4 linked regions of the Homo sapiens genome follow. The protein of the gene in region 3 interacts with the protein of the main gene of each other region in a pairwise test. Each region holds a gene or a part of one and is shown on either strand. Other genes may lie near its edges.

Region 1 (7,548 bases), on a different chromosome or scaffold from region 3:
AAAATTACGAGTTGTGTACTTAATTTCTTAGTTGTAATATGCCCTCTTTTGTCGATACAGTGAAGGGACACTTTTTAAAAATCCAAGCTTTTGGGTAGGAGGATGAAAATCAATTTGTCTTATGATTCTTTGATAATTCCCTTAATATCAACTTCTTGCTTTCCTCCTGTCCCTTTCCAGGAAGTTTCTAAATGACAGCCCTGCTTTCCAAGATACCCCTTGCAATCTAGAGTGCTACCCATGACCTTGAAAAACCTGAAAACAATGACCCTTGTACTTTCTAATCTCCTTTATTACATTTCTGATAGTAGCTTGTGTTCTGGCTCTCCAGGTCTGAGATCTGTTCTCAGTTATTTCCCTGCTTAAGGTGATGTGGCTACCTTTACAGGACATCCACCATAGCGCATGTTTTCTCTTCTGCACCATCCCCATCTGACTCTGCTCCCACATGGTCTCCAGAGAAGTCTCTGCTGCCCTCAGACATTTATTGCACCTCTTACATATCCGTCAAGTTTCTATAAGTCTAAGCCTCTTTATTGTGTTGACAGGTTTGCAGCTACCAGTGATTTTATTTTTTTCTCATTTTTGATCTTTGGAGGTTGGCTTGAGAGAGTGAGATTTAGTCTGTGTTCACGTTCTAAACTATGCAATTTTCAAAGGATACTATTTTATAGCCATAGTCATCTATTTTTGTATTGATTACAAAAAATTACTTTAAGAGACTGATTTATTTGGATATTACAAAACAGACATCTAAATAAGTCTAGCAAATAAATTCAATGTAATTTAAGACTGAAAGATAAACACATTCAAATCTTGAGGGATACTGCAAAGCTTAAAAATAGGTATAACATCAATACATATGTAAGGAAATAGTTGTGTCTGGCATTAGACAATGGCTCTCATATCTCAATTACAGGGAGTGTAGTTGAACCCAGCTGCTACCTTCTGAATATTTGCAAATCAATTACTGGAACATTCACATTGGTTTTAGGTGACTCTTCACTGGCCTGCCAAGTGGCATATAGTGCATTCTTTTGGGAGTTTTCTCCATTGACTAGGTCCATTTAAAAAGTGATTGTCATCTTGGTACAACTTGAGGAAAAAGTAAATACACTATTTTGTATCTGAAGTGGCTGTTGATGTTTTCTTCTTTAGGAAATAAATTTATGACTTTAGACATTTTTGAGTTGAATTTGGAAGTTAATAAATATTTTCTCTAAATGATTTCAGTTCTCCCTCATAACACTAGGTTGTAGGAAAGAGTTTTCTTATGTTATAAAAAAGAAAAATTGAGGCAATCAGTCTAAAAGGAGAATTGGGACTCATCTGTAGGTTATTTTATTAAAAATCCTCTCTGCCTCACTGTGTTCACTACTATAAAATGTAAAACAGCTCTGGCAATAGCAGTAAGAGTTCAGAGCCAATGTACGGAGAAGTCCTTTTCATGTTATGTTATGGTAAGTCTAGTAACTGGATTCTTTTAGAGTGCTGTCTTAATTTTGCTTTGTGTGTAATCATTGTCATTGAAATACAGAAGGGCTTTTTCCTGGAGACTGTCATTATCTGCTTTCTCTTTCACTTAACAGTTATTTATGGAGCACACATACAGTGTGTGTCTGGTGCTGGGCTTATGAGCAAAATGACACAGTCCTGGTTTCATAAAGCTTACATTCCAGTTGTTGTTAATGATTACAATTGTCAGTATCTTTTCAACAATATCAAGCCATGGCAGTTGAAGAATGAGTAAATAGCTATGTTTAGAAAATGATCCAATGTTTTATCCTTCGGAATAATCACAATATTACAGTTTTTACAAGCAACTCAACTGATTCTGATATTCATACTTATTTTTCAGAACCAGTCCGTGTTTGTCCAGTTTCCTTTTATACCATGTTCTCCCCAAATCCTAACATTCCATAACTGCACAGACTCTTCTTGGTCTTGCACTGTTCAAACATTTTTCTTGCTTTCTGTGCTTGGTACACTCTGGGTCTGGCTGTGCTTTTCTGCCTTATTAAACTTCAATTTGCAGCTTAAATATCAATCATTTCCTCAAACAACCTTCTCCTTTTACCTGATTTATTGCAGGCCTTTCTATGACACTCAATTTTTTTTCCTTTGTAAAAAGATGCCCAATGTTACTCATATTCTATTTGTATTTTTAAAGTCATATATTCAGTTCCTCTTTGTTTCTTGATACATAAATAAGCTCAATAAATATTCATTCAGTAAGTGTAGTATTGGATATTTATGTACTTTTTCTCGACGTTTAATAAGAAATTGATGTCATTAAGTGAACAAATATTTTAGTGCTTACTGTACAAAGAATGTACTTTTACATTAAAATTTTCAGAAAACAGGTTTCAGTAATTTCTGCATTATCTGAAATTCATTTAATGCTAGAACACGCTATTGGTTAAAATTCACAGTTGAGTTAGAATTAAAATATTTTAGGAGTTTCTCTTCATCATCAGAAGCAAAGCAATGGAATTCTATTTCCATTTGATAAAATTATTGTAATTTTTATGATAAACTCTGAGAGCTTAAAATATTACCTGACTTTTTATTTATCATTTTAAGGTACATGCAATTAAATGCTTTTTAAGTTAGTGAATTTTCATATGATTCTTGGAAAAGAATGATGTGATAAGAAACAGTTTTACAAAATAAAAACTAAAACTTCTTATAATTTTATAAGACTTTTACTTTTTAATATATGTTATACACATATATTTATCAAATAATTTGTATGTTTTGATAAATCTGCCAATAGTAAAACATCAGAAGGCATTATTTAAGCTTTGTTGTTGCTACTGCTAAAATCATTACTTAAAAAAAATCTTAAGAGTTAAAATTTATTCATTCAGACCATGTATTACTTATTTAAAACCTTGGTTCTACTTGTTATCTGTTATTTAATGTTAAATCAATTTATTTAATTTTAACATTTAAAAGAATACTGCAAGTTCACAAAGACTTGACACAGCATATTTGTCCTTGCCCAAAAATACATTTGCTCTCCTTATATTAATTTTTCATTGCTAAGTTGCTGCCTTCTTGTGGCAACTTTATCATTTTTATTCTGATAAGTGAGGCAATGATAGAAACTTTAAGTATTAATCTTAACAATGAAAGTAATGGCAGGTACTAAATTAAATTGTGATATAATATTTTCACCTCATATTCCCAAACAAGCATCCCAAATGTCAAACTACATCATCTAAAATTTGACCCTTAGTTTATTATATATAATTGGTAAATGAGGTCTAGTGCCAAGAATGTAATTTTGGTTTCCTACATTTTGGAAGCCAGAACATCTCTTAGATTTGGGAACAGAACATTTTCTACAATAATGGTACAATTATATATATATGAAAAAGCAGTTTTTAGGCTTTTATATCATAATTTATTATGATACTATAAAGGATATTGTTGAAATGTAACATTTTTCTAAATGTTGACTAAGTTGTTGGGCTTTTAGAATTTAGCATGTCATAGCAACAGATTTTATAACAGTATAATAATTATAAAGTATGTTGCAATGAAGCCATTATAATCAACAATGTTAAAACAAGTAATTTAGAATTTTTATCCTTTTGAGATATTTTTAAAATGCCTCATACTCTAATCATCCTAAATAGTTTGCAAGGAATTTTGAGTAGTTGACCCTCTTCTGTCCCTACAATACCACAAATATGGTATTTGTGCTATTGTATTTATGGTATTATATGTATGGTATCATACTAATTTTACTAGTAAGAAAACTTAATAAGATAATAAATTTCTTGTCCAGAATTAGACAATGAGTAAATGGTGGGACCAGGATGAGATTCTAATAGATTTTCTACTGTAAAGAGTTACTCTGCTGTATAGATTTATGCAATAAATTACATTGATGTCTCGATATCCATATGCCTAAATATATGAGAGAAACATACATTTAAAAAATTTATATTACCACAGTGTTTCTCCTTTAAGTGTTACATTGCTAGACAAAGTGCTTTCTAATTACTTTGATTAATTTCACTTCTCACAAACCTTGTCAGATTAAATAAGTTGTCTACATTGGGGTAGATGAAGTTACCTGACTAAGCTTATCCAGAGAATAAATGGTGAAGTCACATTAGAATGCATAGCTCAGGACTATAATTTAGAGACAAAAAAGCTACTATTCACTTCTACTTACAATGTCCACAGAAAAATTATAGCAGACGAATATAATTTCATCTCATAATAATAAGCACTTAGATGTAATAAAACTGCAGAAAATAAATACATTTGATATTGCCTCTTTAAAACTTAAAGACATTAAAATAACAAAAACCAAAGGAGATATTAAAATTATCTTAAATCAGAATTTCTAGAGTAGGCTTCTGGTCATTGATAGTAATAAAAATCTCCTCATGTTGATATACCATGCAGCCTTGGTTGAGAACCATGGGAAGAGGGCAGAGGTTGACAAAACTTTAGTGTAAAGGACCACAAAGTAACTATTTTGGGCTTTACTACCTATATGGTCTCTCTCTCAACAGCTTAACTTACCCATTGTGTGTGAAGGCAGTTATAGGCAAAGTGTGAAGAAATGAGCGTGGCCATGTCCCAATACGATTTTATTTGTGGTATAGTTTGAATTTTATATAATTTAATGTTGAAAATGTTTTAATGTAAAATTTTAAAATATAAAATGATAAATTATATATATTTTTTCAATATAAAATTAAATTACTTTTTGCATTACTTTTTGGCAACTGCAAATGTTGCATAGATAGAGAGATAGAGAGATAGAGATAGAGAGATCCATATAGCATCTGTCTATTCCCTAGATAATTGAGTGAATGAATAAATGAAATATATCCAATCAAAATTGCCCATGAAATGATATTGTGTCTTCTCCACTGAGAATGTTTATCAGTTGAGAGTGGAGATTAATGTTCCCAAGAGCAGCAGTTCTTCACTTGACACATATATTTGAAAAATATGGTACATATGGCTGTAGAGATAGTTACATGAACCAAGAGGAAAAGTATATTTATCTACGGTTTGGCCTGATCTTAGGATTTTTGTATTTTTCTCATGTTTTCAAACAAATAGAATTTTCTTTTTAAAATTGTATCAGTGGACATATCCATGAACTTTTCTTAATGGGAGTCTGGTTGTGGGTGGCATTATCTTTTGGCAATTGCAAATGCTGCATGCTGCTTCTTTGTGTTTTCTGTGTGTAGCTAGAGAGATTGCAAGCTGAAAATACCTCGGAGTGGGACAAGAGGGAAATACTTGAAAGAGAAAAGCAGGGACTGGAGAGAGAAAATAGAAGGCTGAAGATCCAGGTGAAAGAAATGGAAGAGCTTTTGGATAAGAAAAATAGATTAAGTGCAAACTCTCAAAGTCCTGATTTCAAGATGTCACAAATTGATCTGCAAGAAAAAAACCAGGTATGGGTGCTCCTTGGAGCAAATTCTCACTGTCTAATCTCACTCTGATGCCTACGCAGAGTCTGTCTTCACTCGTACACGCCTCCACATTTGGATATTTCCTTTTGTGCCAGCTAATACCTGATACTCCTTGCTCTTTTGCCCACTAGGATGTAAAATAACGTTCATGCATCTGAAACAAAGTGTGTCAAATGTTAAAATATGACAAATCTTCAGACAGTTTCAAGATTTCCAAAAGGAAGAAGAAAAATGAAGTAAGAAATAGAACTTTCTGGTTTTTTGTTTCTTATTAAAGCTTTGTCTCAGTATTTTCTAAGCTAATGATCTTATTTCCAATAAAGATTTTTTCATTAATTCAAGCGACTATACAATAAGCATTTGCTGGTAGCTATGGTAAGTATCTGCATAAACATTTAAATTTAGCTGAAACTCACTGCTTTCTGGTTCTTTTTTGTCAGTTTCAGAACGATTATTTTTGAGCTAATGAAATGCATAATTTTTCAAATAATTTTTCCAGCCTGTGGTATAAATCTTAAAACCAGGATAACATTCAGAATTTAAATTTGGGAAATTTAATTTTGGATGTGTTTTATCCCCAAGCCAGTAGATATAGTTTATGCTATAGACGGACATTTTTTTGATAGTTTACAGATTTTTAAATGTGCTTTTAATGGCAGTCTTATAGTTTTAATGTGGGTTCGTGTCAATGTGCTGTAAATTATATTTACCTTGTTTCTATTTTTCAATTATATATAGCATCTTAATGCACAATTCTATTTCTCACTCAGTTTCTTTAACAGTTTTAAAAGGTGAATTTGATAAGTTCATAGTTTTGAGATATTTAAGTCATTCATACTCACATAAGCTCTAAAACCTAAATGGCCAGAAAAATTGAATTCCATATTATTTCATCATTCTTTCATGAATCTAGGGATTTATTGCAAATGCAAGATTAAATTGTATTAGTGTTTCATGACCTAGCAATGCAAATATCTAAAGTTAAATGTTATAGTCCGTGACCATAATTTTCTATTATATTGATTCATAAACTATCCATAATAATGTATTTGATTCTGACATATGTACACTGATAAATCTGTAGACATCTTATTTTGGAGATCTCTACTCTAAAAAGTGCAGAATTATCTCAATTATGGACTGTGGTTTGATTATAGAAATACTTTTTATTTGATTTATTCAAACAAGACAAACATTTATTCGTATTATTCTCTGTGTCAGTCACTGTTCTATATGCAGGTAATGAGAATATTAATCAATGAATCATTATCCCCACCCAGCATGGGCTTAGAGTCTATATAGGGAGTCAAACACACAAATTTTTATAAATAAAACATTATAGTGATTGCTAAGAATAAAGTGGAAGGGGACACAGATTAAGAAGCAATTGATTATATTTGATTTTGGCACCTTTCTAGTTGTATCAAAATGTATTAATATAAAGTATATCTTTCGGGAAAAATTGAGACCTGTTTGGAGCTGGCATTGGCGTAACCTGTCATCAGGGCACACCGAGTCCAGACCTGGTCTCTTTGACAATGTAGTTATTTGGGCTGGGACTAAGCAGAACTTGGAAACTGAGAGGATCCTCAAAGGTCTAAGTCAGTGGGTATGCTGATCACTTAGAAGACTGTAGGATTTTTTAAGTATATATCATTTTGATGGTGAGGGTGGTGGTTGGTGATTTTTATCCTCTTCATTACAAATTCAGACTATCTGCTGGAACTAAAATAATCACTTATTTTGGAACGGTAGCAAGCCAAAATTCTTAGTGCAACAGGAACTTCCCCAGAAGCTCAAAATGTCAAGATTATGATGTCCTCAAATGTCAAATGAATCAGAGCTGTGTACAGAACATGCCAAGGTTTAGGGAATAATGTAGATTTTATCATAACACAAAACCATACTGTAGTTTTAACATTATTTCAATAAGAATTAATTTATATGTATATAACTACCATAGATGAATACCATGGTGCTATATATATATATATATACACACACCATGTATGAGTACCATGTCTATATATGTACAGAAATTCCATACATGAGTGAGGCAGTGAAAGAAGGTGCTAGCATGTAAGGGACACTAGTG
Region 2 (8,106 bases), on a different chromosome or scaffold from region 3:
GAGCGGGGATTGGAGGAGGTGAGCGGGCACGGGAGGAGGTGAGCGGGGACGGGAGCAGGTGAGCAGGCACGGGAGGAGGTGAGCGGGCACGGGAGGAGGTGAGCGGGGCACGGGAAGAGGTGAGCGGGGCACGGGAGCAGGTGAGCGGGGACGGGAGGAGGTGAGCAGGCACGGGAGGAGGTGAGCGGGGCACGGGAGGAGGTGAGCGGGGACGGGAGGAGGTGAGCGGGGACGGGAGGAGGTGAGCGGGGACGGGAGGAGGTGAGCGGGGCACGGGAGGAGGTGAGCGGGGCACGGGAGGAGGTGAGCGGGGACGGGAGGAGGTGAGCGGGGCACGGGAGGAGGTGAGCGGGGCACGGGAGGAGGTGAGCGGGGACGGGAGGAGGTGAGCGGGGACGGGAGGAGGTGAGCGGGCACGGGAGGAGGTGAGGGGCACGGGAGGAGGTGAGCGGGGCACGGGAGGAGGTGAGCGGGGCACGGGAGCAGGTGAGCGGGCACGGGAGGAGGTGAGCGGGGCACGGGAGGAGGTGAGCGGGGCACGGGAGGAGGTGAGCGGGGACGGGAGGAGGTGAGCGGGGACGGGAGGAGGTGAGTGGGTACAGGCGGTCCGGGGGCCGGGGAGGTGGTCCAGGGGCCCAGGGCCACTGCTGGTCAGCAGGCTTGGCAGTCAGAAAGAAGAGAGGACCCAGGAGTGGGGACAGTGGGACCAGGAGCCCAAGTCCTGGGGACTCTGGGATGGCTGGTGCCTGAGTCTGAGCACAGAGGGGTCCTGGCTCAGGAGGGCCAAAGGGGGTGAGGAAGAGCCAGTCCCGGACGGTGTCCCCAGCGTGCAGTCCTGGGCAGGGACCCTGACCCCTGGGTCTCACTGCACAGGGGCTGTGAAGTCTGGGCCCCTCCACAGTAAGTGCTCCTGAGGGTCTGCTGGGAACATTCTGGGCAAGGGCAGCAAAGCCATCAAGCCACGCCGGGGGCTGGACGGGCGAAGGAAGGCGTGAGGGCTGGGTTCTGAGCGGGGTTCCAGTTCCACCCCAGGGCCTGGACGGGCCGAGGAAGGTGTGAGCGCTGGCTTCTGAGCTGGGTTCTGGGTTCCAGCTCCACCCCTGCTGTGTGGTCTCAGCCACCACAACGCCCTCTCTGAGCCATGTCTCCCGCCAGCAGTGGTGTCTCCTGCTGGGCAGAGATGCTGGGGGCTGGGATGGTCTGCTCCTGGCTGCATGCAGACAAGGGGCAGGAGGGATGGCGGCCCGGGGCTGCACGCGAGAACGCGCCTGGAGGAGAAGGGAGTCTCGAAGAAGGGGGTCTCATCCACACCCAGAAGACGGTGTTGGGGGAAGGAAGTGGAGGAAGGGGACCCCCTGGTTGGAACATATGTTGCCCTGGGGTGGCCTGTGTCTGCGCTTGTGTGTCTTGGGTGCCTGGCGTGTCTGCGTGTGGGCTGTCTCTCCATGAGTACGTGCACGTGTCTGCGGTATTTGGCACACGTGTGTGGCGTGTGCTCGTGCGTGCCTGCATGTGCTGAGTGTGGTGGAGGAGAAAGTCCCCCTAATCAGTCCCCAGGTCTCTGAGGCTGTAACAAGGTCAGCGAGGAACTGAGACTGGCCAGGTGTGTTGTCTCAGCCAACAGCCGGCGTGGCCGCCTCTGGGCATGGTTGATTTCTCAAATAAGATCAGCATCAGATCCTGCAGGAAGACAATCTGATCCAGACAGGTTGCAGATGTTCTAAGATAAAATAACCTTTCTTTAGGAGGAAAGAAAAGAAGAGGGTAGGTTTGCAACCAGATTAAAAAAAGCAGCACCCATCCGGACACGTGGAGAGCTGTTTCCTGTTAAACAATCCTGTTAGTAACCCCCACCCTCTGCAATTTCTTGTTTTGAGGCAACTTCTGGGACAATCTCTCCACATGAAGGGCAGGTTCGAGGACCCTGCATTCAGGGGTGGGGACCGAGCCCCGGACCGGTCCACTGGAGCACACCAGCTGTGTGCTCAGGACGGCCAGGGAGGAGGCCATGGACTCTGGACCTGGCTCAGGGACAAAGGGCTGTCAGAGTGTGGGGGAGAGCACTGGCTCCAGGGGATGTGCCTCAAGGCAGTAGCAGTGGGCCTGGGGTCTGCCGGGAACCTCTGGAGGCCCTGGACAGGTTTCCCTGCTCCCGGTTGGCCTCGTGGCCAGTGTTACTGAAATGGGAGATGGGGACTCTGTGACTGATGGAGATGACACCCTCGAGGCAGATCCAGGACCAGAGAGCAGCCACCAGAGCTGCGTTTCATTCGCTGATCCGCACTTCATTCATCCGCCTGGAGTTTGTTGTCTTAGACTCTGTGTTGGGACCTGTACTGGTGTTAACTCAGGCCTCGGTGGACTCCTGGTCCAGGGTGGATGAGGTCATGGGCAGCACAGCCCTGGACAGTGGAACTGATGTTGTGGACGTGTGGGCCGGGAGCCCAGGGAGGGATGTTGGGTGGCGGTTCAGACTGGGCTGGGCTTTGCAGGGTAGGTAGGGGTCGGGTGGTGGGAGAGGCTGAGGCAGAGGCACTTGGGCCTGAAAAGTATCTGAGTCCTGGATGCCAGGAAGCCACACAGGGCACTTGGGCACAGATATGTCATTGCTGCTCCTAAAATTGATCATGTGTAAGCCTCTGGATAGCCGTGGGGGTCGGCACTAATCAGAGGGTCTCATAGGTAACCCAGTGATGAGGGGATCCAGGCTAACCATTGAATGCAATATTGTCAATAAGAAAGAAAAAAGCAGGTTACAGAACAGAAACCATCTGCACCAACACCTATGGTGCTCCAACCGTGCCAGGCAGGGTCCCGGGCCTGGGCCGCGTGATGAGCCTGGCGTGGGGTCCCGGGCCTGGCCCGCGTGATGAGCCTGGCGTGCAGATACTGAAGAGTCCTCTCAAGTGTGGGAAGGGCTCTGAGAGTTAGGCACCTTTTTTTTTTTTTTGACAATTAAAAGAAATTTGCACATAAAAAAAAAAACCTGGAGGGTTAGATGTGGGGAGGTGATGGGCTGCTTTGGGGTCTGGAAATTTGTTTTTACTCCCTATCTGCATTGTCTAATATTTCAACAAGGAACACGGTTATTATTCCTGCGTGTATGTGTGTGGATCTCATTTCCTGTGTCTGGCCCTGCAGGGAAAGCTGGGAGGGGGAGCCTTGGAAAGATGGCTCCACATGGCCTGCGGGGTCCTTCCATTGTACCTGGGCCTACTGCGGGCTGATCCCTGAGCAGGGGCAGGCAGCGTCCAGACACCAGTGCCACAGGGGAATCGGCTTTTCCTTCTGTGGTTTCTCTCCATTAGAGCAGGCTGCAGTCAGGGCTGTCAGTCAGGAGACAGCAAGCCGGCCGAGGGCTGTGGCTGGAGATCCCAAATCGCCCTGGGCTTCAGAGACTCAAATTCCCAAACTCTGTGATCTTTCTTGGCTCCCTGCGTCCTTTGCTTGGAAGCCATCTGTTATTTTGCCAGGGTGCCGCTATGTGACAGCCAAGGGCTGAACTGGGGTGTTCCAGGTTTAAGCCGGGTACCCCTCAGACAGCCTGGTGGACCTCAGGCCTCACGCCACACTGCAGACGAGCAAACCTCAGGGCGGTGGTGAGGAGCTTTCGGGTGAGGTCAAGGCAGGAAGCGGAGCTTGGTCTGGGGAAAACTGTCCCAGGGCTGCTGGAACCGAGCGGGAGGCACGGCCTGCAGGAGCTGCCTGGGCGCCCGCACCCTTTGCCTGAATTTCGCATCCTTTTCCCATGGAAGTGGTTGGGGACCGAGGATGTGGCCTCCCGGCAGCCTGGAAGGCTGGGCTGAGGAGGACACAGGGCCGGGAAGGCCCAGACTGGTCCCTAGAGAGCGGGACTGGCCTCTGCCCACTGCGGGCTTCAGGGAGGAGGCGCAGAGGCCGGGGAGACAGCAGATGGGGCCCTGCAGGCCTCGCTGCGCCCTGACCTGTTCCTCGCCTCTTTAGCCAACCTCCCGGGAAGGCAGGAGCCGGTCTCCATGGCCTCTCCCGGCCCTGCCAGCCCCGTGGGGCCTCCCCGCCCTGCAGCCGCGCCCGGCGCCATCCCGCCGTCCGACCGCGAGGGGACGCCGCTGGCCGCGTTCCTCCTCCCAGGCCGAGGCTGCCTGTGCTGCCTCCCGCCGGCGGGGCCCTGAGCCTCCTCGCCCTGTCGGCGGCGGTCCCCTCTGACCGCAGGGTCTTCTTCTAGAGTCCTGATCGCCGAGGCTGAGCGGAGGCGCCCGGTCTTCCCGCCTCTTCAGTCTTAATGTCTCCCTCACCCTCGCCCCCCACCCCCGTGGCTTTTGGCGAGGTCCGTGCCCTATTTTTAGGCAGAAATCGGCAAAAAGAGTGGACTGCGAGGTGGTTTCTGTCCCCGCCGACGCCTCCTCTTCCGCTGCTCCCTCCCCCGGGACCGGTGATGGGGAAGGTGGGGGAGTGAGTTCAGGGCGGAGCGGGCCCACCCCCCACGGAACCCAGGCCTGCCCCGCCCCGCCCCGGCCTCGGGGGACTGGTGTGGACCGTGCCCCGCGGACCCCTCGGAATCAGACCGCGATTCAGCCCTCGGCCCCCCGGGACGGTCCTTCCAGCCCCAGACGAGCGCGGCGCCTGCACACAACAGGCGCCCACTAAATGCTTGTTGATGGAGGTGGCGAGTACCCGAAACCAGCGGAGCCTGGAAATGGGATCCTAGAGATCCGGGAAGGGCGCGGGGATCTGGTGCCAAGCTGGGGTCCCCCTTTTGCCTCCCCTAGTGTCTGCCTGGGTCCGAACCCGGGCTCAGGCCCCGCGCAGCTCGGAGCCTCCAGCCCGGAGCCGGTCCCTGGGCCGGGGATGCGCACAGCCGGGGAGGGCGCGCCCGACCTGACCCCAAAGCTATCAGTTGGGGGGGGGGTCCCCGGGGAATTAGAAGCTGTCTCCTCCCGGGCATCTCCGAGGGGCACCCCTGCCTCTGCCCCCTGCCCTCATTTCCCGCCGCGCCCCTCCCCGGCCCCGCCCCCCGGCCGCGCCCCACCCCCTGCAGTCCCCGCGCGGCGGCCGCCCGAGCCACGTGCGCCCGCGCCCGGCAGGCGTTCAGGGAAGCGCGGCCACGCCTGGGCCGGCCACCATTTCCCGGGCGCCGCGGCGGCGCCGACTCGCGGGCAGCGGCCCCTCAGTGCGCCCAGCCGGGCCCCCGAACGCCGGGAGCATGAGCGCGGGCTCGGAGCGCGGGGCGGCGGCAACCCCCGGGGGTTTGCCCGCGCCCTGCGCCTCGAAGGTGGAGCTGCGGCTCAGCTGCCGGCACCTGCTGGACCGCGACCCGCTCACCAAGTCCGACCCCAGCGTGGCGTTGCTGCAGCAGGCGCAGGGCCAGTGGGTGCAGGTAGGGCCGGGGCGTGGGAGGCCGAGAGGCCACCGGGCCGGGGCTGGCGCCGAGCTGGGGATGCGGAGACCAGAGCGGGCGCGCTGAGGCCAGTGGGGCGCAAGGCGGGGCCCCCCGGAGCTGGGGCTCAGCTCGGGGTCAGGGTTGGGGGTTACCAGGTCTGGGGGTGGGGTGTCCAGAGCTGTGGGGAGAGGCTGGGCTGGAGGAGGTGGCGGCGAGCGGGGTTCGGAGGAGAGAGGGGGGTGCCCCGCAGTGAGGGGTGCGGCCCAGGGTTCGGGGAGGGGGCCCCGGGCCAGAGTGAAGCGCCCAGGCATGAGGCGCGGGCAGGGGGCTCGACCAAGAGGCGCAAGGAGATTGAGGGGTGAGGGGCGCCGGCCGACGGGGGGCGGGAGGCTGGGCGGGAGCAGGCCGGCGAGGGAGCGCGCGCTGGGGTGCGGACCTCCAGGCGTCCGGGGCTCCCGCTCCAACGTGGGTCTCAAGCGAACCCGCTGTGATCGCGGTTGGGGTCCGAAGGGGCACGGGGCCGGCGCCAGACGGGCGCTTCCTCGGTCACCATCTCGCGTGAAACGCGTGGCTTCACCTCGAAAGGGCGAGAAACGCATGGCGCGAAGCCGCAGCGGGCGGAGGAGCCGGAACTCGAACCCCAGTCCGCGCGGGGCGCCAGCGCTTTTCCCCGGCGCAGGGGTCTCTCCAGGCTCCAGCGCGGGCCCGGGCGGCTGCTCGGGCGGTGGAAGGGACGCGGTCACCCGGTGGCGTCTCCGGTCATCCACCTTGAGGGTGAAGGGCCTGCCCCGCCCTCACCGCCTGTCCCCAGGGTTCCGGCTGCCCCCGGAGGCCCCGTGCCCGCCCCTCACAGCCTGAGCCCACCCTTCACATCCCGAGCCCACCATCCCCACGGAGGCCTCGTGCCCGCACCCTCAGAGCGTGAGCTGTACGGGTGGCCCATGTTTGCCCTTGGTTTGAGGTGCAGGATTTTTCAGGATTCTGAAATGAGTAGCCTACTGGCCCAGCTGGGTCTTGTCCTTACGGGGCAGTTGGACCAGGGAACTGCATGGGATGGGAGAGGCTGGTGAGCCCATGGTACCCCAGCCAGGAGGGAGGGCCCCCCTGTACCCTACGCCCCCTCCCCACTCAGCTGGTGCTGGGGAGCGGCCTGCACTTTAGGGCTGCCCAGCCCAGGGTGTGAATCTGATCTCGCCCCCGACTCAGCGTGTCATTCTCGTCCTCTGTGAGCCTCACTTTCCCCATCTGTGATCTGAGGGTGGAGCAGACAGTGGTGGCCAGGGGTGACCCCCAGGGTGGCCCTCGGGATTGTGGTCCCATGGACAGAGAGCAGGCAGGAGGTCTTCCCAGGGTATGAGTCCTCCTGAGGTACCTGGGCGTGGGTGAGCGGCAGAGGGGAGATGGAGGTCTGGAGCCCGGGGTGGAAGCCTCTGGAGTGGGGTCGGCTCACAGGTGCACTTGCAGGTGGGCAGAACCGAGGTGGTCCGGAGCAGCCTGCATCCCGTGTTCTCCAAGGTCTTCACGGTGGACTACTACTTCGAGGAGGTGCAGAGGCTGCGCTTTGAGGTGTACGACACGCATGGGCCCAGCGGCTTCAGCTGTCAGGAGGACGATTTCCTGGGGGGCATGGAGTGCACCCTGGGGCAGGTGGGTGCCCCGTCCCCTCGGAGGGAGGAGGACGGTTGGCGTGGGGGCCACAGCCGATTCAAGGCTGATGTACCAGCACCGCAGGGACCCTGCTGGGGTGGCCAACCTGGCTCTGCCCCCTCCTCAGCTCCTCCTGAACAGTCATTATTAGATTAAAATATACATGTAATTTTGAACTGGGTAATACATTCGTATGTTTTAAAGCCTGAAGGTATAAAAGGCTGTGGAGCGCCTCCATCCTGCCCCATCCAGCTGCTGCCAGGTCCCTGGACATTGTCCAGAGAGAGATTTTCACAGGAGCAAACCAGCCTATCACTTTTCCTCTTTTTTCTTTTTTTTCTTTTTCTTTTTTTTTTTTTTTGAGATGTAGTCTCGCTCTGTCACCCAGGCTGGAGTGCAGTGGCGTGATCTCGGCTCACTGCAACCTCCACCTCCTGGGTTCAAGCGATTCTCCTGCCTCAGCCTCCTGAGTAGCTGGGATTACAGGCACCCGCCACCACGCCCGGCTAATTTTTGTATTTTCAGTAGAGACGGGGTTTCACCATGTTGGTCAGGCTGCTCTTGAAATCCTGACCTCGTGATCCGCCTGCCTTGTCCTCCCAAAGTGCTGGGATTACAGGCGTGAGCCACGGTGCCCAGCCCACTTTTCCTCTTTTTTCAAAAATACACAAATTACGTTCCCTGTTCTGCATCCTGCGTTTTCACTTCCACGACGTGCAGCAGCCCCTCCATATCAGCACCTAAAAGTCTCCTGGTGGCCGGCCGTGGTGGCTCACACCTGTGATCCCAGCACTGTGGGAGGCCGAGGCGGGCAGATCACTTGAGGTCAGGAGTTCGAGACCAGCCTGGCCAACATGCTGAAACCTCATCTCTACAAAAAGTACAATAATTAGCCGGGCATGGTGGCATGTGCCTGTAATCCCAGCTACTCTGGAGGCTGAGGCAGGAGAATCGGTTGAACCCGGGAGGCAGAGGTTGCAGTGAGTGGAGATCTCACCACTGCACTCCAGCCTGAGTGACAGATTGAGACTCTGTCTCAAAAAAAAAAAAAAAAAAAGAAGCCTCCTTGTGAGCAGCAGGTCCTACGGTGGCCACTGCTT
Region 3 (7,548 bases):
TCTTTCAAGACTCTGCTCAGGCATCATCGCCATGAAGGCTCTCTGATGACCTTCTTCTGATGACCTCCTCCTAGTGCCTTCTGGTGATCACCCCTACCCAGTCTCTCATGTTCCTTCACCTCAGCTAAGGGCCTCTCCTTTCTGTGTATACTTCTACCACATTGTGTTGAAATTATTTATTGATGTAGGTGTTTATTCCCCCTCTGGTCTTTAAGCTTCTGGAGAACAGAGACTGTGTCTTGTTTTTGTACACTGAATGCGAAGGACAGTTTCTGGTTCATAGAAGGCCCTCAGAATTTGTTGCATTCAATTAAAATAGTGCTGAAAAAGTACTTTTTATTATGTTTATTGTGATGCATTTTATTTAAATAAATTTTTAAAGTAGGAGATTGGGGCTAGTAATTCTTTGATAAAGCTCAGTAATTTTTTAAGCACTTAAACTGTATAATTGAAAAAGAAAGCTTGGAAAACAAAAATGTTATTGGATATTTTTTGCTAGACTGTCACTTAAAGCCAATTTTAACAAAATTAGATTTAGGGGGTACATGTGCAGGTTTCTTACATAAGTATATTATGTGATGCTGAGGATTGGGCTTCTATTGATCCTGTCACCCAAATAATGAGCATAGTGTCCTATAGGTAGTTTTTCAACCCTTGCCCTCCTCCCACCCTTCCCCATTTTGGGGTCATCAGTGTCTAATTTGGGGGTCACATTAATTCATAACAGTCCATGTGTACCCAGTGTTTAGCTCCCCGTCATAAGTGAGAACATGCGGTATTTGGTTTTCTGTTTCTGTGTTAATTCACTAAGAATAATGGCCTCCAGCTGCATCCATGTTGTTGCAAAGGATATGATTTCATTCTTTTTTGTGTAAAGCCAAATTTTAACTGTTAAATTTACATAAGCAGATTTCAGGATCGCAATTAGTCCATTAAAATATCCATTGAATATGAGCAGAAATTTGTTTTCTCAGTCAGTAAGATATAGATGATGCCATAAAAATAGCATACGCTTTCAAGTGATACTTTAAAAATACATTGTTATAAACTTTTCATTCATATATAAATGTATATACTTACACTTATTTAGGACTAAAAGATTATTGATTATTGGTAGATCTTTTATCAGACATCCAGTTTTTTTTTTTTATTATTATTTTTAAAGAGATAGTCCTTGCTCTGTTGCCCAGGCTACCACAAACTCCTAGGCTCAGACGATCCTCCTGCCTCAACCTTCTGAGTAGCTAGGACTACAGGCATCCACCACCATAACCTGGTAATTTATTGTACAAACCGCCATGACCTGCTGATTTATTATCTTTCATTTTTTGTAGAAATGGGGGTCTCACTATGTTGGTCAGGTTGGTCTTGAATTCTTGGCCACAAGTGATCCTTCCGCCTCAACCTTCCCAAGTGCTGGGATTACAGGAGTGAGCCACTGCACCTGGCCTAGATAGATGTCCAATGATAATTGGCTCATATGTCAAGCTATAGTTCCAGACCATGTATGAGAAGAACTGAGTGATTAACACAGAAACTTGCCTATAGTAGGTGCTCAATAAATGTCTTTTGTCCTAAGGATTCATTAATTATTTTGAAAAGAGACCCTACACATCACAAGGCCATAGAATGTACTCTGCTATTTAGCCTTTATTAAATTTAGCTCCATATTAACTGGTATATTTATGATAATTAGAAATTATAAGGATGAGGCCAGGAGTGGTGGCTCACGCCTGTAATCCTAGCACTTTGGGAGGCTGAGGCGGGCAGATTGCTTGAGCCTGGGACTTCAAGACCAGCCTGGGCAACATGGTAAAACCCTGACTCTACAAAAACTACAAAAATTAGCCAGGTGTGGTAGCACATGCCTGTAGTAACAGCTACTTGGAAGGCTGAGGTAGGAAGATGGCTTGAGCCTGGGAGGTCGAGGCTACCGTGAGCCATGAGCATGCCACTGCACTGACATGAGCATGCCACAGCCTGGGCAACAGAGCAAGACCCTGTCTCAAAAAAAAAAAAAATCATAAGGATGACACCAAGGCCTTTTGGATCACTAAAAAAAAGATGCAATAATGAAACAATAATTATAATTTATTTATAATATATATAGATTGTTTGAAAAGTAATCTGTGTATAACTTTATTAATTAATATTACTATATAACTCATCAAAATACTTTTATCCCTAGTGATTCTGAATGAGGTTATTTTTTCAGTCTAATTGAAATCTGGTTTTTGCATCCAAAATTAAAAGTTTTTTTTTTAATTAAAAAGTTACTTAAAAAATTTAAGGGCTGGGCACAGTGGCTCACACCTGTAATCCCAGCACTTTGGGAGGCCAAGGTGGGAGGATTTCTTGAGGCCAGGAATTTGAGACCAGCCTGGGCAACATGGTGAGGCCCTGTTTCATAAAAAATAATAATAAAATAAAAGTAAATTGGCCTGGTGTGGTGGTGTGCACTTGTCCCAGCTACTTGGGAGGCTGAGGTGGGAGGATGGCTTGACCTGGGAGTTTGAGGCTTCAGTGGGCTGTAATGACGCCACTGCACTCCAGCTTGGGCAACAGAGTGAGAACCCATCTCAACAACAACAACAAAAAATGTAAGTCCAAAGTGGTATACAGTAAATGAAAATAATATGGAATTACCGTATTATATTAAATACCAATACCATATGAAAATATTATGTTAGATATGTGTCCAATCCAGGAGATATTTAAAAACTGGGTACTTGATGGTTACAGGCGCCTGTAGTCCCAGCTACTCGGGAGGCTGAGACAGGAGAACTGGTTGAACCTGGGAGGTGGAGGTTGCAGTGAGCCAAGATCGCGCCACTGCACTCCAGCCTGGGTGACAGTGTGAGACCCCATCTCAAAACAAACAAACAAACAAAAAACTAGGTACTTGGTAATGGATATGAAACAAAGTGCATTACTCTTTACTTATTGTCAGTACTTAAAATCAGCTTACTGAGTGATTTTTTATAACAGTGGAATTGGCAATATGTCACAAATTGTACTTAGTAGTGTTCTTAGAGATGAAATTTTTGGCAGATTAGGTTATTGTGGGTTTACAAAGGAAACTTTTCTTTCTTTCCTTTTTTTTAATAGAGACATAGTCTTGCTATGTTACCCAGGCTGGTCTTGAACTCGTGAGCACAAAAGATTCTCCTGCCTTGGCCTCCCAAAGTGCTAGGATTACAGATGTGAGCCACCAATGCCCAGCCAATGAAGGAAACTTTTAAAATAAGAAATGGAAAACATTTCAATACTGTCACTCATGAAACAGAACAAAACTATTATTTTTCTACTCTGAATTATCTAAGGATTATGCAACTAAGTTTCTTGTTTATTTTGTTGATTAATACACCTATAGCCCCTTCTAGACTGTTATTTTCCAAAGTTTAGGGATCTCTCTCTCTCTCTTTTTTTTTTTTTTTAATTTTTGAGATGAGGTCTCTCTACATTGCAGGCTGGTCTCAAACTCCTGGGCTCAAGCGATCCTCCCACCTCATCCTCTTGAGTAGCTGGGACTAGAGGCATGTGCCACCATGCGTAGCTGGGGATCTTTTTATAATCGGTGGTAACTAGTACCCAACCCAGTCCCCAGCACATAGTAGGCCTGTAGTCATATTTGTTTAATAAATTAATGAATGAGTTGCCTGTGTGTTTGATCATTTGACTCTTTTCTTGCCCAGCTTTTATAGTAAAGGGGGGAAGGAAAATAGAGACATTGAAATTGGTAAATTTTGCTGGCTAATTTGTTAAAGGTACTGTTAAAGGTTTGGTAGAAGAGATTGAAGTATTGGCTAAATCCAATGCGTGAATACGGCCATTTTTCTAATCCATGCCCCCCACAAAATACAATGCCTTCTAACTTTTGGCTTTATTTAATAATTTTGGTACATTTTTTATTTCAGTGAAGCACTGCAGTTTCCACTATAAACCTTTTCTTCACAATAGATGTTTTGATTCTTAAAATTGTTGAACATCACTTAATTTGAATACTCTATCACAGCAACATCAGTTCATTTAAGAAGTAATGTATATTAGAGAGACTATTAATTTACCAGAATATTTGGCACATCAGAACAATTTCCTCTAGGAGTTTGTGGATATGAGAAAAAGATCACTCTCACAAACCTATAACATTTTTATGGATATGGAATTACATCATAACTGATGGAAAATATTGTCCAGTATGAAAACTGGAAGTAACTAATTTTTATAATATATAACAACTAGTCATTTTTGCTGTCATCTACCTCTATCTCTTAGTTAAGAAATCCCTTGACCTAGACTGCTAAAAATCACTAATAGTTGATTTATATGCTTACATACAGTGTAGGCAGTTCCACAAAGGTGCTTCACGGGCTAACTTGATTTAAATTTCATTTGAATTTCACATAAAATTCCAGACTTTAAAGTATTGAAGATGATCAGTGTATAAATTTATCCTCTGACCTCAAAATGAGGCTTTTTTTTCCAAATATTAAAATTTTATAAACATGATGAGTAAAATCATGGTGCTGCTGGTCTTTTTTCTCCTGTGCATATTTTCTCATGTAAAATTATTATTATTATTATTATTATTTTGAGATGGAGTCTCGCTCTTGTTGCCCAGGCTGGAGTGCAGTGGTGCAATCTTGGCTCATTGCAACCTCTGCCTCCCAGGTTCAAGCAATTCTCCTGCCTCAGCCTCCCGAGCAGCTGGGATTACAGGCTCCCGCTACCACGCCCGGCTAATTTTTGTATTTTTAGTAGAGACAGTATTTCACCATGTTGGCCAGGCTGATCTCGAACTCCTGATCTCAGATGATCCGCCCGCCTTGGCATCCCAAAGTGTTGGGATTACAGGCATGAGCCACCACGCTGTAAAAGTTATTTAAGTAAGAATATTATTAACAGTTTGTGACCAGCTGGCCAACATGGTGAAACCTTATCTCTACTAAAAATATGAAAATTAGCTGGGTGTGGTGGCACGTGCCACCACCAGCAAGGCAGGAGAATTGCTTGAACCTGCGAGGCCGAGGTTGCAGTGAGTGGAGATTGCACCACTGCACTCCAACCTGGGTGACAGAGCCAGACTCCGTCTCAAAAAAATAAATAAATAAAAAAGAATATTACTAACTGTCTTATTCCCTGTACTTTATTAAGTGCCTGTAAAGGCTAAGGCTCAGCTGCTTGGGACATGCTTCTGTCACAGTATAGTAATCAACTACTCACTAACAAAGACATGTAACATGTAACCTTACAAGCATTTAAAAGAGTTATTATATACATGTTATATTGTACATATACAATATACATGTTATATTGTACATATACAATATACATGTTATATTGTACATATACAATATACATGTTATATTGTACATATACAATATACATGTTATATTGTACATATACAATATACATGTTATATTGTACATATACAATATACATTGTATATTATAATACATGTTACATCATCATCGTATATTATAAATCTTAAATACTTATAATAAAGTTGGGGCATTTCTTGTTTGATTTTTATGTTCAGAATGAAATAAAATGAATGTTAAATATTTTTGTGATTCAACTTTGAAGCAAAGATTACTTATCATCCTTTCTCAAGTTTCTGGGAGTAGTTTAATTAAAAACTGTTCTGAAATAATAAGGTGAAGCACTCCTGCCTCAGCCTCCTGAGTAGCTGGGATTACAGGCATGTGCCAATACTGCCCGACTAATTTTTCAGATTTGAATTAGTAGGGCTAGGAGACCAGAATGCACAAACAAGTAACAGCTTCTAAGTGTGCCAAGCCAATAGCATAGTATGCACATCTCAATAAAAGGAATTTGGAGATTCTCAAAGGACTCTATAGATATCCATTGCAAACATCAATGACCTAGTATGGACTTAGTTGCCCCAGACCTAAACAACTAGAACATTTTTACACGTAATCCAATTTGGGGAGGGAGATCCAATCTATATAATAGGACAAATAATGACTGAACAAGTTGATATTAGGAATTCATGTAGTGCTTATAGATTTTATAACTACTACTCTACACAATGAGACTTGATGATTACACGATGACCTTGAGGTATTTCACTGTTAGTCTCACATTTCAACAAGAGTTAGGATTAGACACAAAAACAAGACAAAAACTTGTTTTTTTTGCAACAGGACACCGTTTATACCAAAATCTTATGTGGGATCAGATGCAAGTGTAATGTTCCAAATGAGAGATTGGAGAAGGAGCAAGAGACCACTGCTAAGCCTATCTTCCTCTTGCCATAGATCAGCCCTGTGGCAGCCCTCTGCAACCCTGGATTCCATAAAACACATTTTGAAAATGACTGATTTAGACCGTTACATGTTTTTCCTACTAGTAACCCTGTATCTAGACTTGCCTCTTTTAATCTGTTTTGAGGATTGCTGCCAGAATGATCTTCCTAAAACATAAAGTTATTCTCCTACTCAGACACCATTTTAAATATTTTTTGGTTGGACATTTAAGATACTCCACAACACAGCTTCAGTACCTTTCCAGTGGTATCTTCTGTCCTGTAATGTGACTCTGGACTGCTGCTTAGTGTTCCCTGTTCAGGCATTGCTTTCCCTCACTCCCCATTTTTCTAATGCTGTTCTTCCAACTCAACAAGTCCAAAAATGAACTAATTTTCTCTCCAATCCAAACCAACTTCTCCTGACTTCCCAACACTGTTAATAGCACCACAATCATGCCAACTGAAATCCTCACTCATCCATTATGGTCTATCCTAAATGCCATCTCCTTTAGGAAGCCATCCCTCATTCTAAGAGGAATACCTTCCTTTTCTGAAACGTAGTGACATTTTTTGCTGTCTAATGACTTCTAGACTGTAACTCCATTTTATGTTCAAACATGAAGCATTTTTGCATGGTTTTAGTACACTCAAATTTATCTAGGATTGGAATTACCACCTACATTGAGAGAGGATGATTTTTTTTGTTTAGTTTAGAGCTTAGCCACTTTTACCATTATTATTACTGTTTTTCATTTGATCCATGGCTTTATTTCCTTGTTTTTTAAATTTTATTTCCTTGCTTGTTTTTTTTTTTAAATTGATGCAGCATGCATCCTTCTGCATTTAGCTGTTGCATTCATGGTGATTCTACAAATACGTCTATCTACCTTATTCTGTCTTCTGGAATAATTGTGCTGGTGCATTTACATTTTGAAATATAGAATATTATTTACTGTCATTTATTTCACCTTTATATTACAATTGGGACTTTGTTTTTTTGTTTGAGACGGAGTCTTGCTCTGTCACCCAGGCCGGAATGCAGTGGCGTGATCTCGGCTCACTGCAACCTCCGCCTCCCAGGTTCAAGTGATTCTCCTGCCTCAGCCTCCTGAGTAGCTGGGATTACAGGCATGTGCCACCACGCCCAGCTAATTTTGTATTTTTAGTAGAGACAGGTTTCACCATATTGGTCAGGCTGGTCTCCAACTCCAGACCTCGTGATCCACCTTCCTCGGCCTCCCAAAGTGCTGGGATTACAGGCGTGAGCCACCGTGTTC
Region 4 (7,689 bases), on a different chromosome or scaffold from region 3:
ATCATCTCTGAAAAACTCCAGACTGGAAGGGAGAGCCAAGGTCTCCAGAGAAATTTATAAAACAAGAATAATCTGGGGTTTCAGCTGGGTGTGAGCAGATCAATTGCGGAAGATAATTCAGATTGGCCATACTCTAAACCCTGTCATTATGTGCCACCATGCCCGGCTAATTTTGTATTTTTAGTAGAGACGGGGTTTCTCCATGTTGGTCAGGCTGGTCTTGAACTGCCAACCTCAAGTGACTCGCCCGCCTCGGCCTCCCAAAGTGCTGGGATTACAGGCCTGAGCCACGGCGTCCAGCTCTTGCTTTTAATTTCATTGATAAAATATGTTCTTGCCTCCACATTTACCAGCATCTCTGCCATACTTTCTGAATAGCTGGGACAACAGGCATGCACCACCGCACCCGGCTAATTCTTTGATTTTTAGTAAAGACAAGATCTCCCTATGTTGCCCAGGCTGGTCTCTAACTCCCGGGCTCAAGTGATCCTCCTACCCTGTCCTCCCAAAGTGCTGGGTTTACAGGCTACCACACAGCTGAGATTATCATTTGAATCCATGAGGAAGACTGCCTGAAAAAGTAAATTGTGGATGGGGAGGGAAGGGGAAGATTGCTGGGGATTAAGTGTGGCATTTTGGACACATTCAGTTTGGAGTTGTTCTCTCCTGTTACCAGGGATGAACTCTTTCTTCTGTTTTACCCTAAATTTCCATGTGTGCATTGGATTGCACACCTGCTCATCTACTCAAGAACATTGCTCCAGCATGTAACCCATTTTTTCTCCCCCATATCATCCCTCTTTCCATTCCTTTTGGTTCATGCTGGTGAGCAAACAAACATGTATAGCTTCTAATTAAAAAAAAAAAAAACTGCTTTGACTATATGGTTCCTTCCTGTTTCTACTCCATTTCTTTGTCTTCATCTGATGTTTTTATTCTTTCACTCCAAACAGGCTTTGGTCATCCCCCACTAAAACTCTTCTTACCAAGCTCACCACTGACCTCCATGTGGCCAAGCCCATTCCTCAGTTTTCCGTCCTAATTTTACACACTGTAGCAGCATTTCACAGTTAATTGTTCTTTTTTACAAAAATTTTTTTAATTTGGCTCCTGAAACGTGCTCTCTCTTGGTTTATCTATCTCACTAATCAGAACTTCTCATTCTCTTTTTTTGATTCTTTATCTTCCTAACCTCTGAACTTTGGAGCATGCCAGGACTCAGACTTCAGACATCCCCATTCTGTCTGCACACCATCTATATGCTAAAGAACTCCAAATATATACCACCATCCCAGACTCACCTAACCAACTGCCTTCATGACAACTTGACAACTCCAAACTGAAGGTGTCCAAAATGCCACTCTTAATCCCCAGCAATCTTCACCTTTCCTCCCCATCCACAATTTACTTTTTCAGGCAGTCTTCTCCATGGATTCAAAGGTTAATCTCAGCTGAGCATGGTAACTGATGCCTGTTAACCCAGCACTTTGGGAGGCCAAGGTGGGAGGATCACTTGAGCAGGGGAGGTCGAGGCTGCAGGGAACCATGATCATGCCACTGCACTGCAGCTTGGGCAACAGAGTGAGCTGCTGTCTCAAAAAAATTAAAAATGTCATCAGCAAGCACCCTCACAGACACACCCAGGATAATGTTTTACCAAATATCTGGGCACCCCATGGTCCAATAAATTTGACACATCAAATTAACCATCACAGCTTTCTAACTCGTTGGCCTGTTTTAATCTTTGTCCTTTAATCTGTCCTCAACAAAACGGTAGATTAAAAAAACAACCAGCAACATCATTTAGCTTCTCTGATAAACATTCTTCAGTCTTCCTGTCTCAATCAATGTAAAATGTAAAGACTATCATGACTACCAATGCCCTACATGCTCTACTCCCCACTCCTAGCCCCACCACCATCACTCTTCCTGGACTCTGTTTTGCCCACGCTGATATTTCTCCCAGAAGCCCAGCATGCTCCTGCCTCGGGGCCTTTACATCCACTGATTCCTAGGCTTGAAATGATCTTAATCCCAATAGCTGCATTGTTTCCTCCCTCAATGATTCTCTTATCTTAGATGGCTTTGCAATATACCCATTTTTAAAAATATAACATACCTCATCCCTCTTATTTTACTTTCTTTTAAAATAAACTGTATTTTTTAGAACCGTTTTAGATTTACAGAACAACTGCAAAGGTAGTACAGAATTTCCATAAATTCCATTTCAGATTTCCCTATGATTACCATCTTACATTACATTCCTCACAACTAATTAATCAACCTTGATTCTTATTACTAATGAAAGTCCATGCTTTATTTAGATTTCCTTAGTTTTTCCCCAAGTCCTTTTTCTGTCCCAGGATCCCATCCAGGATACCACATTACATTTAGTTTTCACGTCTCCTGAGTTTCTTCTAGGCTGCGGCAGTTTTTCAGACTTTCCTTATTTTATTTTATTTTTTGTAGAGACAGCATCTGGCTATGTCGGCCAGATCAGGCCTCGAACTCCTGGCCTCAAGCAATCCTCTCGCTTCAGCCTCTCAAAGTGTACGGATTACAGGCGTGAGCCACGTCTGGACTGTACTTTCCTTACTTTTGATAACCTGACAACTTTGAGGAATATTGGTCAGGTATTTTGTAGGATGTTCCACTACTGGAATTTGTTTGATATTTTTCTCATTATGAGACTGAGGTTATGGTTTTCCAGGAGGGAGACCACACATGTAATATGCCACATTCATCACATCATATTGACTACATGCCATCAATGAGTCACGATTGTTGACGTTGGCTTAGAACATCTGGCTGGGGTAGTGTCTGTCGGCTTTCTCCATTGTAAACCTACTGTTTTTCCCTTTCCACATTGTACTATTTTGGAGGAAGTCACTGTGCACAGCCTAGGGTACATGATCTACATAAATTATTTGGAATTATTCTGTATAGGAGATTTGTCTCCTCTCCGCCTTTTATTTATTTATTCAATTATTTATTTATATCAGTGTAGACTCATGGATTTTTTTACTTTGGCTTGTAATCCAATACTACCTTGTTTAGTTTACTTCGTTGCTCAAATGGTTCCATCTTTGGCAACTGGGAGCTTTCAGGTGGTTCCTGTGTCTAAACATTCTGCCATCAAGGCAGGATTCGTTCTTTAGTTTTATTTTTTTTCTTCTCATTCAATTGAGACAGCGTCTCATTCTGTCGCCCAGGCTGGAGTACAGTGGCGCGATCTCGGCTCACTGCATCCTTGACCTCTCAGCCTCAAGTGATCCTCCCACCTTAGCCTCCCGAGCAGCTGGGATCACAGCGTGCGCCACCACGCCCAGTTAATTTTTTTATTTTTTGTAGAGATAGGCTTTCACCACATCGCTCAGGCTGGTCTCAAACTCCTGGGCTCAAGAGATCCTCCCCCTTCGGCCTCCCAAAGTGTTAGGAATACGCGCGTGAGCCACCGCGCCCGGCCCGATTTTTCCTTTTTTGAGTATCACTTCCTTACTTTTCAGCCTCAGCCTTGTTTTTCAAGGTGCTTTACCACCACCTGGCACAATCCACACTTTCTATTTATCCCTCCCCGTTAAAGTGCCGGGACCTGGAGGGTGGGTCTTGGCAGTATTTTTGAGCGCGGTGGGCACACAAGGGGACGCTCAGTTGATATCCAGAGAATGATGAGCCCGGCGGGTGTTGAGGCCGACTGGAGAGAGGTTGGTCGGCAGGGTTCTGGGAAGGCGGTGCTCGGCCTCCGTGTGACCGCAGGCTCCTCGCCCGCGTCCTCGAGGGTCCCAGGGATGCAGGACCTGCCGCAGCTTCCGCAGCCACACCCACGCTCAGAGACGGCTTCCAGCGTCCTCGCCGCGGCAACGCACCGGACTGCAAATGTCACCAGCGCAGCGGGGATTCCCGGGGGAAGTCCAGCGCGCTCCCTGCCCTGGGGACCAGAGGACGAGCGGAGGAAGTGTCTTGGGCGGCAAACATCCCACTCCCCGCGCCGGTCCGCGCAGCCCGCGGGAACGCCCCTGGGCTTGCGGGAGGGGCTGGAGCGCGTCCCCGGCTCCGGGCGGTCCCGAGCGCATGGACTCTGGGTGGGGCGGGAACCCGCGCTCTGTGAGCCGGCTGCCGCCGCGCCCCAGCGCTGTCATCCCGGGGCGGGGCCTGGTCCCCAGCTGTGGTCGCTTCCTAAGCGGCGGGGGCTGAGCCGGCGGCGCCCAGATGCGGCCGCGGCGGCGCGGAGCTCGGGCGGCCGTGGAGGAACTCAGCCTCGGCCGCAGGAGGCGCCGGGAGCGGAGCCGCCGGGAGTCGCGCAACAGGTTTCCTTCTCCATCGCTGCGCCCACAGGGGACGCGCGCCCTGCCGGGAGAGGGGCTTCTCGGTTCGCACTCTCGCTCCCAGTCCAGGTTTGTTTTTCTCTTCCTGAGCCCCCATTTCTCTTCCTGACTATTTTCCCCGTGCGCGGAGAGATCGGGGAGGGCGGGTCGGGGCGGGGGCACTGTCTAGGCTCGGGACCCGCGGCTGTGCCTTAGGTGGGATTTTGGATCTGGCGCAGGTCCTCACGCCGCCTCTGGGCACCTTCGGAAACACAGCATTGGGTTTCTCATATAAAGCAGAATGATTTTTTAAAATTACTTTTAATTTCAGAGGCTGAGGGACTTAGGATTTAGTGCTTCGTAAGAATTATTTTAGGGATACCTGTTGGTAGGCTGCCTTTATAAAGTGTCCACCCAAGACTACTTTTATTTTAAATCGAAAGGCTGGAGTGTTTTTTTATTATCACCTCTTCACTTCCTAGTAGGGTGACTGTGTCAAAAACACCAGAATGGGTACTTCTTGACTTGAACTTGGCGGTGTCACTCAGTAGCCAGGAAAGACGGAGAAATTGATAGAGCCTTCGAGGAGTCCCTTCGAAGCCCACGTAAGACTTTGTTTTAGAAACATGGAGAGAAGTAGTGGCAATGCCTGCGAGAGCCACGCCGTCCTGAGAGGGAATTCTGCCTTTTTCTAGACTCCGCTGACACCAGCTGAGATCTGTATTACTTCCTGTGGTTCTCACGCACTTGTTTCAGCCGTTTCTCAGCAGAGGGAGGAGCTGTTATTTACAGGTATCCAAAAATGAGTCACAGGGCTGCTCTCTTAATTGTGAGACTTTGTTAATGAACTTTTGAAAAGCGAGGCTTGCTTTAAAATGAGACTCTAGATGTGAAATGCCTGCCCTGCCAACCTGGGGCAGTGGTATGGGAAGTGACGATTGAGTTTTCAGTTTCCTAAGGCGCCTGATGTTACAACATGCCAGTAAAGGTCACTGGGCTGATCTAAGATAACCATTGAAATCATGTGCTTTGCCACAGATGCCCAAGAGAAAATTAATTTCATTATTCAATGACCATTTTGCTGTCATTTTCACTGCATGGGAGAAAGGTATCATTTAATGTGGTGATTGTAAGTAACTCTCTAAAATCAAAATATTTCAGACAGTTTGTGTTTACTAAATTGGTGCTAAAACCACATGATGATTTTTGAAGCGGGTGGGTCCCAGCGGGAGCAGAGAAATTTAAAAGTTGAAGCTGACAAGTCCTATTGCGGTGGGTAACAGCCCTTAGGAAGGGACTGCACACTATCTCAACACGGTAGAGAAGGGGACACCATCTCTACTGGAGCTGAGTTGAGCTGAATTCAGCCTCAAACAACAGTTACCAGGTACCTTCTCTGTGCCAGCCTCTTCCCTGAACCTTGCTTGTACAACCATGAATAATAGGATCCTGCCGGCAAGGTACTAGGGTAAATCTATACCCAGAGTGAAGTTTCTGTGCCAATATAACTCAATATGCTGGGTCCCAGTGTATTTAAAGAGTAGACTCAGCAGATTATCACCCCTAGATAATTGCGGTCACGATTAGTTGATAGTGTGACTTTTAAGAAATAGTGTGACTAATTAATAGTTTATTTAAATATGCTGGAAAATTCAATATAATGAGATAGGTGCTAGGGTAAATCTATACCCAGAGAAAAGTTTCTGTCCCAATATGACTGATGTTTCTGAAGATCTGGGATTTGGAATGGACTGGGTCATGGCTGGAAGAGCAAGGAAACTTTTGAGTTTAGTCATTTACTTGTCTTTGTAGGCAGCCTATTCTTCATTTGATACATGATTTAAAAATGTATGAATTTGAAAGGTATGGTTTTTAAAGTGCTTGAATGAACCATGTTTCATGTTATTTAATAACCATGTAAAACGAAATTCAGCTGATTATCACCCCTGGACAATTGCAGTCACCTTTAGTTAACAGCATGACTTTTAGGAAATGGTGTGACTAATTAATAGGTTGTTTTGTTTTGTTTTGTTTTTTGAGACAGAGTCTCACTCTGTTGCCCCAGGCTGGAGTGTGGTGGTGCAATCTTGGCTCACTGCAACCTCCACCTCCTGCGTTTAAGCAATTCTTGTGCTTCAGCGTCCCAAGTAGCTGGGACTACAGACACCCACCACAACACCCGGCTAATTTTTGTATTTTTAGTAGGGACAAGGTTCGGCCCTGTTGGCCAGGCTGGTCTCGAACTGCTGACCTCAGGTGATCTGCTTGCCTTGGCCTCCCAAAGTGCTGGGATTGCAGATGTGAGCCACCATGCCCTGCCTAATAGTTTATACATTGGTAACACTATATTGAAGCGAGTTTATGATCATTGTTTTTGTAGTTCAAATCAATGTTTTTTATCACATTATAGCCGTGTGAGCCAAAATGAATAAATCTACCGTATCACAGTTTACTGTTGCAATTGAAATCTGCTGAGATGCTTTTGAACTGGATGCCCAAGTATCAAGGTTTCCAAGTTTCCCCAGTTTGCTAAGATATCCAACTGGTAAAGGCAACAATGCTAAATTTCAGACAACTTTACCTTAATTTCCAAACTTTATTCCTCCTTTGAGAGCCCTAAAGTTACTTTTTCTATGAGAAAGAAAGGGTCGAGTTTGTCATTCAGCATTGTACTCCCTGAACTTGGCCCAGGCTTGTCTCATGATAAGTGTTAGAAAGTGTTTATTGATGGAATAATGAACCTTCACGTAGGAGGATGAATTGTCAGGCAAGTGGAATTGTCTGCTGTAGGTGACCCAGCAGAAGGAACAGCACCCATAGAGAAGTGAAACAGCACTGGACGTTCAGGAAACTCCAGCCTGTTTAGTGACGGCACAGAGGGAGGCCTACGGAGACAGGAAGGGCCAGATCACAAAGGCCCCATGAGGGTTTAATAGTACTGAAGCCTTTGAACAAGTGAATGATATTGTCAGGTATGTGTTTAAAAAATAATAACAAAACTTGGAATTTTAAAAATCTTAGATTAGATGAGAGTGACATTGACCCTAGGAAGACACCGTGGAAACTGTTGTCATATTGCAGATGGGACATTGAAGAAGGCCTGAATCGGGCAGTGACAATGCAGATGGGAAAAGAGGGAAGGGGCTGGTAGAGGTTTAATAGGTGGAACCCTGTCGGGTGTGTGTAATGAGGAGGTAGGAGCAGTTGAGATGACTCCCATGTTTCTAATGAATGACTAGGATAAGAATATCCTACTCGGTGGAAGAATAGGTTTGGGCTAAAGGGTGGTGAGGAGCTCACACAGTACTTGGCACATAATCAGTGCTCATTAAGATTTTTCAAATGAATGCTAGTAATAGCTAAAATTTATTGAGTGCTTATTAAG

What was found.
Region 1: the proteins of IKZF3 (region 3) and CCDC102B interact in binary tests that used the Homo sapiens proteins (3 or more experiments, as listed by UniProt).
Region 2: the proteins of IKZF3 (region 3) and CPNE7 interact in binary tests that used the Homo sapiens proteins (3 or more experiments, as listed by UniProt).
Region 4: the proteins of IKZF3 (region 3) and STX11 interact in binary tests that used the Homo sapiens proteins (3 or more experiments, as listed by UniProt).

What each region holds. Positions count from the first base shown.
Region 1 is NC_000018.10:68,891,994-68,899,541, forward strand, and holds part of CCDC102B (coiled-coil domain-containing protein 102B), read left to right. Parts: intron 1-5,225; coding exon 5,226-5,435; intron 5,436-7,548. UniProt on the Homo sapiens protein: During interphase, forms fibers at the proximal ends of centrioles to maintain centrosome cohesion. During mitosis, dissociates from the centrosome following phosphorylation to allow centrosome separation. Contributes to CROCC/rootletin filament formation.
Region 2 is NC_000016.10:89,570,716-89,578,821, forward strand, and holds the start of CPNE7 (copine-7), read left to right. Parts: upstream 1-5,042; 5' UTR 5,043-5,182; coding exon 5,183-5,356; intron 5,357-6,811; coding exon of another isoform or gene 6,812-6,823; coding exon 6,824-7,006; intron 7,007-8,106. UniProt on the Homo sapiens protein: Calcium-dependent phospholipid-binding protein that may play a role in calcium-mediated intracellular processes.
Region 3 is NC_000017.11:39,853,852-39,861,399, reverse strand, and holds part of IKZF3 (zinc finger protein Aiolos), read left to right. Parts: intron 1-7,548. UniProt on the Homo sapiens protein: Transcription factor that plays an important role in the regulation of lymphocyte differentiation. Plays an essential role in regulation of B-cell differentiation, proliferation and maturation to an effector state.
Region 4 is NC_000006.12:144,146,310-144,153,998, forward strand, and holds the start of STX11 (syntaxin-11), read left to right. Parts: upstream 1-4,207; 5' UTR 4,208-4,394; intron 4,395-4,786; exon of another isoform or gene 4,787-5,096; intron 5,097-7,689. UniProt on the Homo sapiens protein: SNARE that acts to regulate protein transport between late endosomes and the trans-Golgi network.